3 separate regions of the Homo sapiens genome follow, and all the other regions are linked to region 1. Evidence: fine-mapped expression QTL. A gene starts in region 1. Each other region holds a variant in brackets. All regions are shown on one strand. Distances are between the middles of the regions.

Evidence for each region. PIP is the estimated chance that this variant, and not a neighbour inherited with it, causes the effect.
Region 2: its variant is fine-mapped to the expression of PLAC9 in prefrontal cortex (GTEx, PIP 0.98).
Region 3: its variant is fine-mapped to the expression of PLAC9 in pancreas (GTEx, PIP 0.98).

The regions. Positions count from the first base shown.
Region 1 is chr10:80,129,893-80,136,725 of GRCh38, reverse strand. PLAC9 (placenta associated 9) reads right to left here and starts at 3,996. Exons shown (of 4, transcript NM_001012973.3): 1 at 3,900-3,996. The coding sequence starts at 3,963.
Region 2 is chr10:80,171,075-80,177,907 of GRCh38, reverse strand. It overlaps ANXA11 (annexin A11), which reads left to right. Exons shown (of 16, transcript NM_145868.2): 2 at 1,753-1,801; 3 at 5,039-5,101. The coding sequence starts at 5,047. Among named protein-coding and RNA genes, the nearest start is that of ANXA11, 31 kb to the left of the region's middle. RefSeq lists enhancers at 484-983, 984-1,485, 5,607-6,532. The variant T/C (reference allele first, on the strand shown) is at 4,358.
Region 3 is chr10:80,154,415-80,161,247 of GRCh38, reverse strand. ANXA11 (annexin A11) reads left to right here. Exons shown (of 16, transcript NM_145868.2): 13 at 2,053-2,148; 14 at 3,223-3,281; 15 at 3,485-3,607; 16 at 5,336-6,833. The coding sequence ends at 5,395. Among named protein-coding and RNA genes, the nearest start is that of PLAC9, 25 kb to the right of the region's middle. RefSeq lists enhancers at 2,228-2,769, 1,867-3,066. The variant T/C (reference allele first, on the strand shown) is at 3,296.

The DNA.
Region 1 (6,833 bases):
CTCTGGGCAACATAGTGAGACTCTGTCTCTACAAAAATAAATAAATAAATAAATAAATAAATAAATAAAATAAAAATTAAAAAAAAATTAGCCAGGATTGGTGGTATATACTTGTAGTCTCAGGTATTTGGAAAGCTGAGGCGGGAGAATCGCTTGAGCCCAGGAGTTTGAGACTACAGTCAGCTACGATTGCACCACTGCACTGCAGCCAGGGTGACAGTGAAAGACTGTGTCTTGTAAGAAAATAAATAAATGAATAAAAAATAGTAGACACGCACATGCACCACAGGGCTGTCAGTGGCTCAGACAAGGGGAGTGGAAAAGACTGAAGGATTATGATGATTAACCCTGAGCAGCCAAGGCTGTGGCTCCTCAGGGCTCCCTTCCTTCCTTTCCTCCCGCTCTCCCAGGCCCTGCCAGTTGGGAAATGGACCTCCTTGGATGCTGCGTTGTTTTCTCTGGCCCGGCTCCTGCTAGGGGCCTGATGTGCACCCTGGATGGTGGCCATGGGTGGGGCATCCTGTGCTGGTGAGAACACGCTGCTGTGGAGCCCGGAGGCCCCAGAGGAGGGCTCGGCTGGGCTGGCTGCCCCAGTTAAAGAGACGTGGCCCCTGGGTCCCATCCTCTGAGGCGGAAGTACGGGTGCTTCTACTTACAGGCCTTATGGGGAGACCTTTTGTATCTGGACCCAAACAGTAAGAAAGGGCCACAACACAGATGATTTCTGCATGCTGGGGGTTGAGAAATGTTTTCTCAGTGGCATCTGAAAGGTGCCGCTGTATCTTCTGAATTGTCAAAGTCACACTCTGCTTTGAAAAGCAACCCTGGCCACTTGGGGGTTAATTATATTTGACCACATTCAACATAATAGAATAATAAATTTACCACATCCAATATTTGTATTAAAATGTATGATTCACTCAAAACCATCCACGGGTTTTGATCATTTTTGAAAGCAGCAGAAAACTATTCTTCAAGTGATTTTATAAAAAACTCCAAAATATGGGCCGGGCGTGGTGGCTCATGGTCTAAAAAGCCATCAGGGATAAAGGTTTCTCTGAGTGCTGCTAAAAGAAACCAAGACTTGGGCCCAGCGCGGTGGCTCATGCCTGTAATCCCAGCACTTTGGGAGGCCGGGGCAGGCTGATCACTTGATGTCAGGAGTTTGAGACCAGCCTAGCCAACATGGTGAAACTCCCCCGCAGCCCCCGTCTCTACTAAAAAATGCAAAAATTAGCTGGGTGTGGTGGTGCACACCTGTAATCCCAGCTACTTGGGAGACTGAGGCACGAGAATTGCTTGAACCCAGGAGGCAGAGGTTGTGATGAGCTGAGATCGCACCACTGCACTCCAGCCTGGATGACAAAACAAGACTCTGTCTCAAAAAAAAAAAAAAAAAAAAAAGGCCGGGCGCAGTGGCTCACACCTGTAATCCCAGCACTTTGGGAGGCCGAGGCGGGCAAATCACAAGGTCAGGAGATCGAGACCATCCTGGCTAACACAGTGAAACCTCATGTCTACTAAAAATACAAAAAAAATTTAGCCGGGCATGGTTGCAGCCGTCCGTAGTCCCAGCTGCTTGGGAGGCTGAGGCAGGAGAATGGTGTGAACCCGGGAGGCGGAGCTTGCAGTGAGCGGAGATCGCACCACTGCACTCCAGCCTGGGAGACAGAGCGAGACTCCATCTCAAATAAATAAATAAATAAATAAACAAACAAACAAACCAAGGTTGGAAGTTGGACGTGCTAGAGATAGCTCTCAATTTATAGAAAATATAAGGGGTGGAGGTATTTAAATGACATAAAAGGGATGCAATTAGCAAAATCTAAATGTGGAAAACTTTACAGGACAAACTTAGTTTCTTCAACAAAAACAAAAAATTAAGTAAAAAAAGGGGAGAGAAGACTTACATATTTAAAGAGATCTAACAGACATATTGACCAAATGCAGTGTATGTAACCTTATTTGGATCAAACAAATGAATTGCAAAAAGATATGACACAATCAATCAAGGACATTTGAACAGTGATTGAATATTTAATGATATTCAATCACACACAGTTTTTGGAGTATGATCATAGCATTGCAGTTATGTTTATTAAGAGTGCTTATCTCTTAGAGGTACACAAAGAAATATTTATAGATGAAAATACATGATGCCAGGCCAGGCATTGTGGCTCACACCTGTAATCCCAGCACTTTGGGAGGCCAAGGCAGGTGGATCACTTGAGCCCAGGAGTTCGAGACCAGCCTGGCCAACATGGTGAAACCCTATCTCTACTAAAAATACCAAAATTAGTCAGGTGTGGTGGTGCGTGCCTGTAGTCCCAGCTACTCAGGAGGCTGAGGCAGGAGAATCAGTTGAACCCGGGAGACGGAGGTTGCAGTGAGCTGAGATTGTGCCACTGCATTCTAGCATGGGTGACAGAATGAAATCCTGTCTCAAAAAAAAAAAAAAAAGAAAGAAAGAAAGAAAGAAAATATACAATGCCTGGATTTCCTTTAAAATAATCCAGGGAGGGGAGAGAGGGTGGAGGCTATAGATGAGATAAAACTGCCCATGAACTGATACTTCTTGAAGCAGCGTTGATAAGTATATTACATGATTCTTTCACATACTATTACTTTGTATTTTTTTGTATCCAAAAGTTTTCATAATCAAAAGTTAAGATATATCATCTAAAATCTGAAAGATTATGCACAAAAATATATGAAATCAGTGTGAAATTACACTAATACATGAATACTTTCCTCCTTTCCTTCTTCTTTTTTTTTTTTTTTTGAAACTGAGTCTTGCTCTGTCACCCAGGCTGGATTGCGGTGGCTTGATCTCGGCTCACTGCAACCTCCGCCTCCCAGGTTCAAGTGATTCTCCTGCCTCAGCCTGCCGAGTAGCTGGGACTACAGGCATGTGCCACCACGCCCGATTAATTTTTTGTATTTTTAATAGAGACAGCATTTCACCATGTTAGCGAGGCTGGTCTTGATCTCCTGAGCTTGTGATCCGCCCGCCTGAGGGGTAGGTGAGGGGAAGAAAGCGGACAGTGAAAAGCAAGGAACCCAGCTAATGGAGTACCCAGACAGCCTCTCTCCTCCGCACAGCTCTCCACCTCCACCCAGTCCCCCATCTCCACCCAACATAGCTCAGTTTCCCAGAGAAGCTCCCTGGAAACCGGGAGGCTGACTTCTTCACTGACTGCAGATCCACCTGAGGCCACCTGGCAGGTGAATCGGTGGCCTTTCTCCTGGGCCCGACTGCCTGGTTCCTTAAGGCTGTGCTGGGCTAGCCTGGGTCACTCATCCTTTGGAGTGTGGCTTCTTATGCAATGTCCTATAAAGCCAGGCCTGAGCCTCCACAGGCCCTCTGAGATGGAGCTGGCCTCCGGGGCTGCCCCACCCAGCAGCTGTGACCTCCCACTCCAGATCCTGGCTCCTTCTCTCTTGCCAGCTCTACTCCGGGCATCGAGCTTCCCTCTCTCTCCTTTTTGGTCTCTCTCAAATCTTTCTCTTTTCTTCAATATCCTCTCTCCCTCCACCCCTTGCCATTTTAATCACTTTTTCTCTTTCCTTCTTCTCTTTTGTCTCTCAAACTCCTTTTTCTTTCTATCTTAGTTCATATCTGTTCAGGGGAAGCCTCTTTCTGTCTCAGCCTCTCCTTTTTCCTTTTCACTGTGTATTCTTCCCTATCTCCTTTATCTCTCCGTTGCTCTACTTCTCTGCCTTTTTCTGAGTCTGTTTCCTCTCAATCTTTCTCTCCATCCCTCCCTCCCTGCATCTGCCTCTCTGTCCATCTCGCTGCTGTGTCCAGCTCTCTCTCCGTCTCTCTCGCTCATTCCTTCCTCGCCATCTGCGGGTCTCCCCGGCTCCAGGTCCCCTGCCGCGCCCTGCGCCCCACTCACCGGCCAAAGAGCCCGCGGCGCGGAGCAGGGCCAGTCCGGTCAGCGCGCAGAGCAGGGGCCGCATGGTGCCGGCCTGGCCGAGCGCAGCGCCGCGTCTGCCCGCAGCCGCCCTTCCCGGATCGCACCCGGCCGGCCCGAGAGGAAATGCACTCAGTTCGAGCCAAAATTCCTGGGCGGCTCCGGACTTTCTGGCTCGAGAGAACCCGCCCCCTCCAGAGGCCCCTCGGCACCCCGTGGGCAGCGCGGAGCCCAGAGACCCCGGGAGCTGAGGCACCGACGTGCCACCTGGGCGCCTCCCGAGGAAGGGGCCGCCCCCCGAGTCCCCGCACCTCCTGGGAGCCCGGGAGGGAAGGCGGGGCGGGGGGCATTGGGTGAGGTCTTGGGCTCAAGGCGACCGAGCCTGGGGTCAGGGGTTTGTTACGAGCCAGTTTCACAGGCGGGCAGACTAAGACTCGGAGGGAAGTGTCTTCCTCGGCATCACTCTCAGCCATAGCACAGGATCTGAACCCCTGTCTCCTGGGAGTTTGGCAGCTTTTCTCTGTCTACCTACGAACAAGAAATTAATTCTAATTACATGGAACAGTGTCTGCCCCTAAGAGGGAGACCCAGAAACTCACTGCTCTGGTAAGGGAGTGATAGAAATATGAAAAGGTAATTTTAAAAAGAAAAGGTAAAATCGTAACTCTCGCAAAGATATGAAATTAGCATATACTAAAGATTTTATTCAATTCATTATTAATGAGGGGATAAGTAAGATGGTACAAGCAGCCCAAAGTTTAGAGCACAGTAGTGGAAACTTCCCCTATGGGACATGCCCATCCAACAAGTGCAACAACAAATTAAGTTTTAGTAAAAACACAAAGCAAAAAAGCTGTAGCTCTAACTTCTCTGCTGCAGAGCCCTGAGTGAGTGTCTCGTCTGGCTGTAAGTGGAACACATTCATCACCAAGCCTGGGAGAATGCCTTTGTCCATCAAGGGTCCCCGTTGGGATTACCTGGAGCTCTTGCAGATCAAGGCTGCCTCTCTGCCTTCTGTGTTCCTGGCTGTGGCTATGCAATTGTCCAAAACAGTTACCACGCTAACCAGTGATCCAGTTCTCACTCCCTCCTCCAGAGCAAGATAGTAGCCTCAGACGGAGAAATTCTGGTTCTGAGCCCGAGAATCTGAGACAGACTCAGATCTAAATCTTTTAAAAGCCTTCAAGGAGATTATGATGCCCACATGAGCTGGCTCAGAAGAAGAATTTATTTCAGGAATGCCAAAAATTTCTCACGCTTGGTGGTAGGACATTCCTTGATAGTTTCGCCAGGTGGGAAAAAAAGTTGTCAAAGAACTGCCCAACTCATAAGGATTCTTGTAGCTTAGAGCCAGTGGGCTACCTTATATTTTGAATTTAAGACTAAGAAAACACACACACACACAAAAACATATACAATACATTATTGTTGCGGTAGAGCATAAAGTAATTAAGTATACAGAGTAAAACATGAAAGTCTTTTCTGTTACGAATTCCCTCCGTCCAATGATTCAGGTCCAGTCCCCTCAACTTGGTAGGCTCTGCCTGTTCCACGTCTATGCATTCCCCATCTACCTAATGTATATTCAGACACAAATGTATATACATGAGATCAAGTCATAGATATTTTGAAGATTTGCTTTCATTCATGTTTATCTCAGTCATAACATTAAATCTTGGCTGGGTGCAGTGGCTCACGCCTGTAATCCCAGCACTTTGGTAGGCCGAGGTGGGTGGATCACCTGAGGCCAGGAGTTTGAGACCAACCTGGCCAACGTGGTGAAACTCCGTCTCTGCTAAAAATACAAAAAATTAGCAGGGCGTGGTGTTGGGCGCCTGTAGTCCCAGCTACTCAGGAGGCTGAGGCAGGAGAATCAGAACCCAGGAGGCGGAAGTGGCAGTGAGCCAAGATTGCACCACTGCACTCCAGCCTGGGCAACAGAGCAAGACTCCATCTTAAAATAAAAGAAAATAATCTTGGAGATCAGTCTATGTGGGTACAGATAAATCCACTTCATTCCTTTTAAGAGTTAAAATATCCCATGAATGGATACAAGGAGCATTATTTATCCAAACAGTCCCCTATTGACAGACATGTAGATTGCTTCCTTTTTCTCTCCAATATAAAATAAGCTTTAATAAACATTCCTTTGCATATATCTTCATGTACGTAGTACATATTCCTGTATGTACATATTTCTGAAAGGCTGGAAGAGGAATCATTGCGTCAAAGGCCTTTTACATTTTGCCAGATAGGCCAAAAACTGTTCCCCAAATTGTTACTAAGCCCACAGGAGGGGCAAGGGGTCTTCCAGCGCTGTTCCAAGGTGCACCTGAGCATGTTAGTCTAGGTAGGAATTGGGCTGCAGGGGGCGCCATTTACATAAAATACTTCTGCGCTGGGCGCGGCGGCTCACGCCTGTAATCCCAGCACTTTGGGAGGCCGAGGCGGGTGGATCACGAGGTCAGGAGATTGAGACCATCCTGGCTAACATGGTGAAACCCCGTCTCTACTAAAAACACAAAAAATTAGCCGGGCGTGGTGGCGGGCGCCTGTAGTCCCAACTACTCGGGAGGCTGAGGCAGGAGAATGGCATGAACCCGGGAGGCGGAGCTTGCCGTGAGCCGAGATTGCGCCACTGCACTCCTGCAGTGTCACCCACTGCACTGGGTGACAGAGTGAGACTCCGTCTCAAAAACAAAACAGAACAAAAAAACAAAAAAAACCCTTCTGGATTGGAGATACCTGAAGTGTAAACCTATCAGTCACCTACATTCTCCAACACTGGATATTTATTATTTAAAATTTTGACAGCTTGATGATGGAAAATGTTACCTTGTTGTTATTGTTATTTACATGCTACTTGTTATGAGTGAGGTTAAGCTTTATTTGCTTCTTCGATTACTTTTTTCTATT
Region 2 (6,833 bases), 41 kb before region 1:
CTCCTAGAACATGGATAGCTTGGGGGGAGATTGGTCAGCGCTGGGAGCCTGTGTCCACCTGAAGGTCACCCCTGGCTATTGGGCTGCGTTTACTTTTCTCCTGGGGGTAATTAGGCAGATAAACAGGCTCTCTTCAGAGTAAATGTGCTAGAACCCTCACTTGGGCATGTGGAGAAATGTGTACTGGGTGGTGGCAGAGTGAGTTGGGGGAGAGCTGGTTAAATGCCTGCACCCACATGATGCCTAGTGTTTGATGTTGAACTGGGGAGTTCTGAGTATGACAGTTCTGTAGTGTCCCTCGTTGTCCCTTTCGTCTTGGTTACTTGGCAGAACACAAATGCCATGCTTATTGCATCCATGGATGTAAAACAAAGCTGAGAGAGAGGGGGAAGATGTTTGATGTTGAGCAGAATCCCAGAAGGTCTCAGGAGACTGGAGCAATGGGCAGAACCCAGGGGAGAAATTTCACAGGAGCCCACATAAGGTCTCCGTGGCCTGAAAACCCACTTGTACCAGTCCGGGGAGGTAGGGAGTAGCATCCACTGGAGGGAGATGAAGGTCCCGCCCTGCACTCTTCAGACCATACCTGGGGCGTTTGGTCCTGAAAAGAACTAAAAGATAAGAGTGGGGTCAGGCCAGGCATGTAATCCCAGAACTTTGGGAGGCTGAGGCGGGCGGATCATCTGAGGTTGGGAGTTCGAGACCAGCCTGGCCAACATAGTGAAACTCTGTCTCTACTAAAAATACAAAAATCAGCCTGGTGTGGTGGCAGGTGCCTCAGGTGCCTGTAGTCCCAGCTACTTGGGAGGCTAGGGCAGGAGAATTGCTTGCACCGAGGAGGTGGAGGTTGCAGTGAGCTGAGATTGCGCCACTGCACTGCAGCCTGGGTGACACAGTGAGACTCCGTCTCAAAAAAAAAAAAAAAAGTGGGGAGCAGGCTTGAAACTATTTCAGGCAGAGAATGACAGAGGGAAAAATGAGGCTATTCTTTCTAAGAACGGAGGACTAGAGGTATATCTTGGGGAGAGGGGAAGACCCAGGGTCGCAGGACCACAGCTCACAGTGGGGTCGACCTGCCCTGTGGGGCCATGCAGGGCAGAGCTCCTAGCCAGGAGGCAGATTTTGACTCCTGCTGGGAACTCCCTTAAAAGCCACCCCAAGAATGAGCTCCACGAGCGCCATCAAGGCTGGCCTGCAGGCCCTCCAGGGTTACCAAGGCTGCCTGGAACTGAATGGACCCTGTGTGTGTTCTTTTAGTCTTGGAAGACCAGCCAGGACTTTGGGGGCCAGACGGCTAGCCTCAAGTGAGCTCAGAAATCTGCACCTGAATTGGGCCTTTTTAAAAGTTGTTTAATGGCCAATACATACATGCAGCAGAAATGCACAGGGAACAGATCTAAACCGGAAGCCTCATTTTCTAGCCCCACCTTTCCTCTCGAGAGGCAGCTAGTGTTAGCTAGTTTCTTGTGTGTCATTCCAAGGATGTCCGTGCACGTCTACACTCAGGAACCACTTAGTTTGTATGTTTCTGGGTTTTTTATTAGCTTAGTACATACACAGTACTGCACCTTGATTAATAATGGTGGTCATTGCATCTTTCCATATACAGAGCTGGCTAAATCCAGAAATAGCTACAGAGTATCCATTGTTGGATCTGTTGTGGTTTATTTAACCAGCCTCATTGGTGGAGGTTTAGGAGTTGTTGCAGATAAGGCTGTAGTAAAATTCATGTCTGTATGACATTTCACACAGGTGTGTGTCTGGGGAAGAGACTTACAGAAGTGGAGTTGCTGAGTCAAAGGTATGTCATTTTAAGTTTTGATATCTTTGTATTTTATTTATTTATTTATTTTGGAGACGGAGTCTCGCTCTGTCACCCAGGCTGGAGTGCAGTGGCATAATCTTGGCTCACTGCAACTTCCGCCTCCCAGGTTCCAGCCATTCTCCTGCCTCAGCCTCCCGAGTAGCTGGTATTACAGGCACCCACCACCACGCCTGGCTAATTTTTGTATTTTTAGTAGAGACAGTGTTTCACCATGGCCAGGCTGGTCTCGAACTCCTGACCTCAGGTGATCTGCCCACCTCGGCCTCCCAAAGTGCTGGGATTACAGGCATGAGCCACTGCGCCCAGCCGACATCTGTGTATTTTTAATTGGTGATTTCCTCAGCACATTGGTGAAGGTGAGCATCTTCAGCTCCTTTTCTGTAACTGCCAGATCTGTTCACATCATTTGACAGTTTCTCTAGTGGTTATTGATCTTTTTCTTATTATATTAATAAAACTTTTTTCCTAAGTTTTTTTCTCATCTTTATTTTTTTTTAATTTGTCTCTTATGCTGAAATTTTATTTATGTCGTTGGTTTTTGGGGCTACTTCTTTCACTGCATTATTTGGCCTGGCTGGAATTTACTTGGTATAAGGAACAGGGTGGTATCCAGCTTCTGTTTCTTGGGTTTTTTCCCTGGCCTGGCTGTGGATGGAGCTTTTGGCTTCATTTCTCTGAGAGGAGGCCAGGAGTGGAGAGTGTCTTTGGTGCTCAAAGGTCCTGCCTAGTGGTGTCTCCAGAGAGGAAGGTGACAGAGACACCATCCCGGCTCTTCCTGCTCACCTGTCGGGCAGTTCCTTCTATTAGAAGGTTCCTGGCCTACTGGTCATTTACATCCCCCAGATTACCTCCTCACCAGTGAAGTCTGAGGGTTTGGCAGAGTCTGGGCAGAAGGGTCAGGCTGGGGCCGGGACGGGGAGGGCTTTGTACTGACAGCCCACCCAGCCTCAGGGACACCCTCTCTGAAGGTGATGCCACCGGGGACCTCATCCACCACGTGCTTAGGGGCTCAGAGAGACCGAAAACTGCAAGGAGTAGGTCCTTGGTCCACACTACAGGGAGCCAATTCCAGCTTTCTCCAAAGCCATAGGGCTTTGCCTACGGTCACCTCTGGACCCACTGACCCAAACAAATGACTACACCCGTAGGGCTGAAAACCAGGCCCACCCTATGGGGACCGGTGGTACCTTAAGGAAGTTCTTTAGCTTCCTTAAAAACAGCATGTAGGCTGGGCACAGTGGCTCATGCCTGTAATCCCAGCACTGTGGGAGGCCGCAGCGGGCAGATCACTTGAGGCCAGGAGTTCAGACCAGCCTGGCCAACATGGCGAAACTCCATCTCTACTAAAAATACAAAAATTAGCCAGGGATGGTTGCGCCCTCCTGTTGGAGGCTGAGGCACAAGAATCCCTTGATCCCAGGAGGCGGAGGTTACAGTGAGCTGAGCTCGCACCACTGCACTCCAGCCTGGGTGATAGAGTGAGACGCTGTTTAAAAAATAAAAGTAGGCCAGGCATGGTGGCTCATGCCTGTAATCTTAACACTTTGGGAAGCCGAGGCAGGCAGATCACCTGAGGTCAGGAGTTCGAGACCAGCCTGGCCAACATGGTGAAACCCTGTCTCTGCTAAAAATACAAAAATTAGCCAGACATGATGGCGGGCGCCTGTAATCCTAGCTACTTGGGAGGCTGAGGCAGGAGAATCACTTGAACCCAGGAGGCAGAGGTTGCAGTGAGCCGAGATCACACCATTGCACTCCAGCCTGGGTTACAGAGTGAGACCCTGTCTCAAAAAAATAAAAATAAATAATAAAAAAACTTAAAAAGAACAGCATATACCAGCCTCGGCAACATAGTAAGACTCTCAAAAAAAAAAATTAGCTGTGTGTGGTGGCACATGTCTTTAGGAGGCTGAGGCGGGAGGATTACCTGAGCCCAGGAGGTCCAGGCTGCAGTGAGCCATGATTGTGCCAGTGCACTCCAGTCTGGGTGACAGAGCGAGACCCTGTCTCAAACAAACAAAACCCAATATGCCCAGTTCTTCAAGATAGATATGAAGGGCAGCTAGACTCTTATAGTTGGATAGCGTGGCTAGAACAGTGGTCTTCAAAGTGAGTTCCCTGGACCAGTAACATCATCTGGAAACTTGTTCCAAATGCAAAAACTGGTTCCACTGTCTCAGAAACTCTTGGTGGTGGAGCCCAGCAATGTGTTTTAACAATCCCATCAGGTGATTCTGATATGCATTGCAGCGTGAAACCCAGTGTGTAAAAAGAAGCCACATACTCGAGACGAGCAGGTGTGATTGTTGAGGGACCCTGCAGGTTTCCTCACATGTCCGCCTGCCATTGGGTGTCTCTGCAGACTGCAGCAGCAGCTGCTATTAGCAAGAGCAGGCAGGTTGCACAATGTGGCTGGTGTCACAGCAGATCTGTGTCCCTCCTCACAATTTAACTGGCAGGGGACATTGCCAAGGGATCCGTGTTCAGAGGGACTTCGTGAGAGCAGGTGTCTCACCTGGCACCTGTCCAGGC[T/C]GCTCTTCCTCCCTTACTGACAGATCTGCAAATCACTTACTTCTCTTAATCAGCAGCCTCTACTGCAGAAACAGGGTGATGCTGCCTCATTTGCCCTGGTTCTTCACCCTGCATCAGATGAACCTCCTGAGGGCCCTTTTTGCTTCTAGGAACGATGATTCCATACCTTACCAGGTCCCCTTGCCTGATGAACCAGAGGTTGGAGAATGAAGAGAGACAGGGGCCTCTGACTTCCCCTGTTGCTGGAGGGATGGCAATAAGGACACAGGAAGATAAATAGACAGACCTGGAGTCCTGAGAATGAGGCAGTGCGTCTCTACCTCTGAGGTGGGAGAACAGGCCCAGAGGCGCACTGCACCCTTGCCAGCAGAGGCAGGAGCAAAGCTTCAGTGAGAGGGCCTTTCAAGGAAACTGGCTCATGGGGAGTGAATCCTGTCACTGTGGGTGGGGCCGGGGGTGTGGCCCTGGCCCAGAAGTCAGGCAGCATGCTGGTGGGTACTGTTTCTAGCTGGAGGCACCAGCAGGAGACAGTGAACTGGTCTGCGACAAGCAGGGCAGATGCAGCAGTTTCTTCTGCAGGGTCCCAGTTGTGGTGGTGGCTGCCCTTTCAAGAAGCTGGGTCCCACGGGCCAGCAGGGGCTCTCAGGCAGAGCCTGAATGTGCTTTCGTCTTCTCTTCCAGATCTAACCATGAGCTACCCTGGCTATCCCCCGCCCCCAGGTGGCTACCCACCAGCTGCACCAGGTAAGAGGGTCTGGGGTGGGGAGGAGAGTGAATGCTGCCTCTGTACAGTGGCTGGGAGTGGAGAGGGGAGAACAGTAGTTTCCTCACTCCCCTCCTCCCCTCACAGCACGGCCCAGCAGGGGAGGAGAGGACAACAGGAGTAGTGGGACAGCCAGCCGAGGCAGGGGCTGGAGAAGAGCATGACACTAAGGCCATCGGAGGCCTAGGTTTGAAACTGCCTCCAGAAAGCCCTGGACCAGGCCCAGGGCTGGGTCTCTTGCCTTACTCTCTAGTAACAGTGGGCAAATGCTGTCACTTTGAGACTCAGTTTTCTTCTCCGCAAAATTGCTTCAAGGATTTCTCCCTCATTAGGTGGTCCTGGATACTGATGAGATAGGCAGGCAGAGCGACACGGTGTCCTCCAAAGCATTGCTAGGTGATGGTTGCCCCTTACCACCTCTCCTACCCTCTGCTCAAGGTGTGTGGGTTTGCAGCAACAAGATCCCCCTTGCCAAGAGAGGAAGTGGAGGCAGATGCTAAGGGTCAAAGGTCACTCCCTGTTTTCTGCAGGAGCTGTGGGTAGTCACATGGAGAAGTCGTCTTCTCTGGCCCTGGCCCCTTTTGGTCCTCAAATGAGATTTGGTCCCCACTGTGGGAAAGGAAATATGAGGGCTCATGAGACCAAGGGGAGAAAAGGGTCATTCCAAGGCTGGTCATCCTGAGGGTGCCTGAGCCGCTGCCCCTCTCCCCAGGGGACTCCTAGGCATCATTGATTTCTTTGGAGCTGAGGTCCTGTGGTTTGAACACCCCAGACCTGCAGGCCATTTACCTTCCCTCCCATTCAGCAGGTGAAGAACAGACTCAGACCTAGAGGTGGCTCAGCTGCTGTCCCAGGGCATGTTAGGGGCTGAGCTGGGCCACTGCCCTCTGAATGAGCCCACCCCAGGTTGGCTGGCACTGGCCTGGGTTCTCTCTCTATAGTAGAAATCCTGCCATCCAGATCCTGCCACTGCCACCTTTGCTAGCACAGCTGAGCAGCCTCTGAGCAGCAAGAGAGGAGGAGGCAGGAAATTTAGGGAAGGTTCTTCCTGGAGGGTCTGGAGCCCTGGAGATGAAGAGCCGATCCGAAGCTGCCATGTAGAGGAAAGCATCTAACAGGCCAGAGGCCCCATGATGATGTCGAATGCCCATCGGGCACCCAGCTGAGCCCTGCAGGTGTTAACTCAGTCTTCGTCACAGCAGTCTAGGCATACACTCACCATTAGCCCATTTGTAAGCTGAGGAAACAAGCCTAAGGAGGGTGAAAGCCTTGCCCCAGGGCACATACCGGTCCTGCTGGTTTCAGAGCGGGCTTTTCACCTCTGTTTCTTCCTGTCCTCTTGTGGACTGGTATCTGTGTTTACCATGACCCAGCCCCATGTCCCTCCAGCCTCTTATCCTGCTTCTCCCTGCCTTTTACAGACTTGTAATAGCAAACAGCCAAACCCCCTCCCGCCAGTGCCTTCGCATTACTGAAATCTCAGAGCTCCCTATGGTCACCTCTGTCATGGGCTCAGCATGGTGTCCCACAACAGTCTGTCCTTGTCTGTCCTCCTGCTCCATGATGGTGAACTTGGGAGGGCAGAGCCTGCCTGGGCTCTCCCAGCCTCCTTAATACCCCACAGAGGGTCTTGGGAGTGTTTGGGGAACTCCACCTTCCTCCCTGGGAAGAGGGGAAGGTTTCCCCTCCTCTGCCAGTGGGATAGGGGGAGAC
Region 3 (6,833 bases), 25 kb before region 1:
CAGTGAAGGGGGACCATGTGGAGCAGGTGGAGTGAGCAAGAGGAGTGGGAGGTGAGGGCAGAGAGGGGAGAGGGCCCTGCTGATGACTTCCCGGAGCTGGGTATTTATCCTGAGCAAAAGAGGAAGCCAGTGGAGGGCCCTGAGCAGAGGAGGCTGTGCAGAATCCCTGGCTGTGGTGCCGAGAATGGAGTGAAGGGTGCAAGGCCAAGCAGCGAAGCCTGTCGGGAGGCTGCTGCAGGGACCCGGGGAGGAATGGTGGTAATAGGGGCTTGTGGTGAGGAGGTGTCAGGTTCCGGCCATGTTTGCTGATGAATTGGACACGTGACGTGTGGGAGAGAGAGGGTTCGAGGATTATACAGGGTTTCTTTAGGCCAAGCAGTGGGAGAATGGCCCTCAACTGAGACAGGGGGACTGTAGGTGGAGCTGGCTTTAGGTGCCTGTAGGGTGGAGCTGCAGGGAGGCTGCTGGGTTGCTGAGTGTGGAGGTCAGGAGAGGTCTGGCCTGGTTGTGGAAGGTAAGGGAGCTATGGGTAGTTGAAGTTATCTGAGGCTCTGGGACTGCAGGAGGTCCCCTCAGGAGGGAGACTGTGGGGAGCCCACCGGTGTGAGGAGACTAAGAAGGAGCAGCTAGGGAGGGAGGAGGACGCAGAGGAAGGGGGTCCTGGAGGCCAGTGTGAGGTGGCAGGCAAGGACTGAGGATGGTGACCACACGGAGCAACTGGTGGGCTGTGGCCAGGGCTGCTCCAGTGGGCAGTGAGGGTGAAAACCCAGCGACCGCTCTGTGCTGCACACAGAGACAGGCGCTGTGGCTCTCCCCATTCGCAGCTGTGAAAGCAGGCACAGGGTGGTAGAGGAAGTAGGGGTGCACAGCTAGTAACAGCTGAGCTGGGATTTGAACCCAGACCACCCGACCCCAGAGCACACTTTTTAACCTCTGCACTATCCTGTAATGGAGCCTGAGTGAAAGCATTTTCATCTTAATCATTATTTCTTTTAATGAGTACAGAACATGTAAGTAGTGCATCAAGCCCATGGCTTCACAAACATTATTACTTAGGAGAAAAGAGTAGCTGATTGGAAGAAGATATTAATTGAGACAGATACACACAGAGCAGAAATCACAACTTTAAAATGCAAATGGTAGCTGAGACTCAGGCTGGGGAAGGAGAGTTTTATGTCCTGGGTCAGAACTGGAGTCAGGACCAAGGTCTCCATCATGCCACCTGTCTCTCTAGGAGCCAGCCATCCACTCCTGTGGGTGCTTAGCGTGTCCTAGGTCGAGGTGAGCAGCAAGAAGCCAGGCTGGCTGGGGCAGGCTGGGCCTCAGCTCACAGGCAGGCTGAGGAAGACAGATGGATGCATGAATAAAGCCAAGGAATGGCAGAGACTGGAGGTGTGGAGGATTTGAGAAGAGGGGACACTGTCTTGGAGTACATGGGAGTGGGCCCTGGAGGGGTATTAAGGTGCGATTTGGTTAAGCAGATTGGCAGTCCTGAGAAAGGGACCACACAGGGAGGGACATCAGGTGGTGCATGTAACTTGTGACGAAGACTCTGACTTCCTTGAGCGCTAGCAGGCCTGGGGACGTGCAGGGTGTGGGAGCAGAGTGGCAGGTGGGAGATTTTGGGGCAGAGGCCACCTCATGTGAGTCCTCTGTTAGTCTGCTCATGCTGCCATGACAAAATACCACAGACTGGGTGGCTTAAGCAGCAGATACTCATTTTGTTACAGTTTTGAAGGCCAGATATCCAAGAGTGGGGTGCCGGTTTCTCCCGTGGCCTCTTCGTGACAATCACTGTGCTCACATGGTCTTTCCTCTGCATGTGCACATCCCTGGGATCTCTGTGTGTGTCCTAATCTTCTCTTCTTCTAAGGAGACCAGGCGAATTGGATTAGGGTACACCCTAGCAGCATGTTTTAACTTAATTACCTCTTTAAAGATCTTATCTCCAAACACGGTTATATTCTGAAGTCCTGGGAGTTGGGACTTCCACATATGAACTTTGGGGAGACACATTTCAGTTCATAATATAAGCCTCTGTCATCCCCATAGTTTTCAATGAGTACCAGAGAATGACAGGCCGGGACATTGAGAAGAGCATCTGCCGGGAGATGTCCGGGGACCTGGAGGAGGGCATGCTGGCCGTGGGTAAGTGTCTCAGGTTTGCCGCCCACCTGCCAGGGGCTAACGTGTATCGTGAGTGTTCAGGCTGCTCGCCTGTCCTCCAGCTGATGGGTGACACCGTGAAGGGACCACAGGATCCAAGATCGCTCAGCCCAGAGTGTCCAGATGCTGGGAAGTCATGCTGCTTCCCGGTTCCCTGTGCAGTTGAACCCCTAGCTGTCCTGGAGGTGTCTTGTGTGTGTTTGCGGTGCAGCTCTGGAGTAGGGAACTGCAGTGTGGGTATTAGTGGGAGGGCATCCAACTGCGCTCCCGGAGGAGTATGACTCATATCCTGCCACGTTTCCTCTAAAAATACATCCCTGCAGGCAGTTGTCAGATGTTTGTGATGGAAACACGTGGAAAGATTTTTACTTGCAGCAGCGAAACAGGCCCATGCTGAGGAAAGCTGGCTTGGCTCCAGGATGGTGGTGTGCCTCTTACATTGCCCATGTCCTCTAGCAGGGCCCTCCCACTGTGCAGAGTTGGGTCCCTGCCCTGAGGCCCTCACAACCCCTCTTTCTACTCACTTGGGAAAATCAGTCTGCCCCTTTTTTCATTATGCTTTTTTTGGAGCTTTCTGGATGGGAGAGATGGAAAATCCTCATTTCCCTGCCTGTCCCCCATAGTAGGTCTCATGGCCTGGGAAGCCTAGGGAGATGCACATTCCACTCAGCCACGGTTTCTCCATGACGGTCATGGCCTCTCCAGTCTGCCCCTCCTGCCTGAGCAGCAGCACAGTTCCTCATCACCATCCACATTGCTTCCCTGTGTAGCTCCTAGCCCCACTAAGACCCCCGCCCCTCTGACTCTTGGTCCTTTCACCGCAGTGGTTGCCAGGAAAGAGGGTGGGTTGGTTTCCAGGCTTTGCGTGTTTCTGTTCCAAATAGCTGGAGCCAAGATCATGGGATAGTTGAGCCTGGAACAGAAGGAGGAGGAGAAAAGATGGATGCAGTGATGGGTTTGACATCTGGGCCTCTAAGAGGACACTTGTAGACTCCATGCCCTGCTTGGGCTGAGAATTTTCTGCAGATCTGGTTATGCCGAGTTTCTCTCTTCTAGTGAAATGTCTCAAGAATACCCCAGCCTTCTTTGCGGAGAGGCTCAACAAGGCCATGAGGGTATGTAACTTCCA[T/C]GTGCAGGTTGCGATGGAACCTTAGCCTCGCCTGTGCCTGGGACCAAGGGCTGAGGGCAGAAGGCCTGGGGAGAGCTAAATCTCAGCTGAGAGTTCCGAGGACCTGGGTAGGGAGGGGACTGGAGGGCCCAGGGCAGGTGGGAAGGTGAGGAGGCCTGGTGCTCATGCTCTTGGGTGGACTCTCTTTAGGGGGCAGGAACAAAGGACCGGACCCTGATTCGCATCATGGTGTCTCGCAGCGAGACCGACCTCCTGGACATCAGATCAGAGTATAAGCGGATGTACGGCAAGTCGCTGTACCACGACATCTCGGTACGGGCCTGCTGCAGGCCAACTGGGCTCCCTTTTGGCATCTCAGTCACCTGTGGAACCTCCCTCCTTGGAGTGGCCATATGCTTGGCCTCTGTGCTGTGTGTGGGCATCTTGATTATGGACCTCGGACTTGTTCATCCCCTTGCCCTTAAACAGATTATAAATTTCTGAGGGCAGGTGGATCATGACCTTGCTGTCGCCCCCACCTTGCATCCCCCAGCAGCATCAGAGAACACTCGGGACCTCCCCAACCTTGACCGTGACCTTCAGCGTTCCGATCACCGTGTGATTCCTTGATCTGTCAGTGAGAACTCATGTCCCAAAGGCTCTGTGGAGCTCTGCTGTCACTCCCTGACAAAGCACTTCCTGCACTCAGCTTTATGGCGTAGGCCACATAGTAAGGCCGTTCAGAGCGAGGGCCCTGGGGGTCACGCCACTTGGAGTCCAGCTTTTCTACTTGCTAACTGTGTGACCTTGAATGGCTCCCTTAAATCTCCCTGAACCCCAGCTCCATTGTCTTTAAGATGAGAAAATAATCGTTCCTTCCTGGGAATGTTGTGAGTATTGAGTGAGGCAGTGCAGGTCAAGTGTCTATTAAACACTAGCCACAGTTGTATCGCTGTGTGGCAGAGCCAGTCTGACAAAATACATTCTCAGCTGTGTGGTCTAACGCTCAAATTCTGAACTCACATGAGCCTTGCAATTGCACCATGGGGACCACGTCCTCCCACCTTAGACTCAGTAGCATTTGATGATGGTGGGCATGTCATCACAGGAAACTCACTGTGTTTCCTTGGCTGTATGAATGAAGCTGTTGTTAGAGAATTAGTGATTCTAGGCTGGGCACAGTGGCTCACGCCTGTAATCCCAGCACTTTGGGAGGCTGAGGCAGGTGGATCATTTGAGGTCAGGAGTTCGAGACCAGCCTGGCCAACAAGGTAAAACCCTGTCTCTACTAAAAATACAAAATTAGCTGGGCTTGCCTGTAATCCCAGCTAATTAGGTAGGCTGCGGCAGGAGAATTGCTTGAACCCGGGAGACAGAGGTTGCAGTGAGCTGGGATCACGCCATTCCACTTCAGTCTTGGTGACAGAGTGAGACTTCGTCTCAAAAAAAAAAAGAGAGTTAATAATTCATTACAGAGTATCTCCTGCATGCCAGCAAGCTATGGACATCTGGAAGAAGCCACATGCCTTGCCCTCAAGTTGCTTAGGGTGGAAGGAAATGATTAGAAATGAGCCAAGCCGAGCCTGCACTCTTAGAGTAAGTGTAGTGGCCTCAGACAGAGGAGAGATCCCTGGGACCTGGGCAGTCTGAGCCTTCCACTGGACAGTCATGTGTGAGGAGATTGCATTTCCTGAGCAGGACACTGTGTTGCGTTACATTGGTAACCCCAATTTAAGGCAGCATAAATGCACTGGGAAAACAGCAATATTGGTTAGCCCTGGGAAGTGGTTTTTAGGATGATTATAATTTTTTTTTGTGGGTATTCATTTGATGTGGATAGCTGGGGTGAGTGCTGCTTTCCGTCTTCTGATGGGGGCCTGGAGAAGGCTGAACTGCATTTTTTAAGGTCTGTGACGCCTGCTGCAGGACCTGCAGTGGGAGAAAATTCCCCAGGGTGGGGCTTTCTCCCTATAAGGGTGCTCAGGGCTGAATATCAGGACCCAGAAGGCTGAAAGTGACTGTCCCTCCCTTAACGGATGTCTTCCTTGTTTCTGTGGCCAGGGAGATACTTCAGGGGATTACCGGAAGATTCTGCTGAAGATCTGTGGTGGCAATGACTGAACAGTGACTGGTGGCTCACTTCTGCCCACCTGCCGGCAACACCAGTGCCAGGAAAAGGCCAAAAGAATGTCTGTTTCTAACAAATCCACAAATAGCCCCGAGATTCACCGTCCTAGAGCTTAGGCCTGTCTTCCACCCCTCCTGACCCGTATAGTGTGCCACAGGACCTGGGTCGGTCTAGAACTCTCTCAGGATGCCTTTTCTACCCCATCCCTCACAGCCTCTTGCTGCTAAAATAGATGTTTCATTTTTCTGACTCATGCAATCATTCCCCTTTGCCTGTGGCTAAGACTTGGCTTCATTTCGTCATGTAATTGTATATTTTTATTTGGAGGCATATTTTCTTTTCTTACAGTCATTGCCAGACAGAGGCATACAAGTCTGTTTGCTGCATACACATTTCTGGTGAGGGCGACTGGGTGGGTGAAGCACCGTGTCCTCGCTGAGGAGAGAAAGGGAGGCGTGCCTGAGAAGGTAGCCTGTGCATCTGGTGAGTGTGTCACGAGCTTTGTTACTGCCAAACTCACTCCTTTTTAGAAAAAACAAAAAAAAAGGGCCAGAAAGTCATTCCTTCCATCTTCCTTGCAGAAACCACGAGAACAAAGCCAGTTCCCTGTCAGTGACAGGGCTTCTTGTAATTTGTGGTATGTGCCTTAAACCTGAATGTCTGTAGCCAAAACTTGTTTCCACATTAAGAGTCAGCCAGCTCTGGAATGGTCTGGAAATGTCTTCCTGGTACCAACTTGTTTTCTTCTGCTTGATTCTGCCCTGTGGCTCAGAGGTCTGGCCTTATCAGCCAGTGAAAGTTCATGTAACCTTACGTAGAGATTTGTGTGCAGGAAACCCTGAGCATACACTAGTTTGCAGGGACTCGTAAGGACATGGGAAGGGAGGTTCCCGAAATCCAGGCAGGAGGCCCAGACACCTGAAAGGCAAAGGGATCTTGGTTGGTTGCAGGTGCAGTGAAGTCCACTGAAGGTGTGGTGCGAAGAATGCAGTCCTTCACCCAGGTCCCAGGAGGGAAGAAGGGTGTGTGCTAATTCCTGGTGCCCCTCGGCGGGGGCCAGAGAGAAGGATGGGGACAACCCAGAGAGTCACAAGACCAGTGCCTCCCCTCAGGGTGCCTCCAGGCTGAAAGGGGCTCCTGGCTCTGGTCTCTGGGGACCCTGTGCCCGTTGGTTGGTGGTGTGAGGGAAGAGAATCCATAAGAGAGTTTCTGAGAATTATGGTGTCATGTCCAGAAGCTAGAGCTTACCTTGCATCAGGGGTCTCCACCCACTCCTTTTCCAACCTCCTGCGTTGAGGTTTAGAAAAGAGAGAATCGACTAGGCACTATGGCTCACGCCTGTAATCCAAGGACTTTGGGAAGCTGAGGTGAGAGGATCACTTGAGCTCAGGAGTTCAAGACTAGCCTAGCCAACAGCGAGACCCCTGTCTC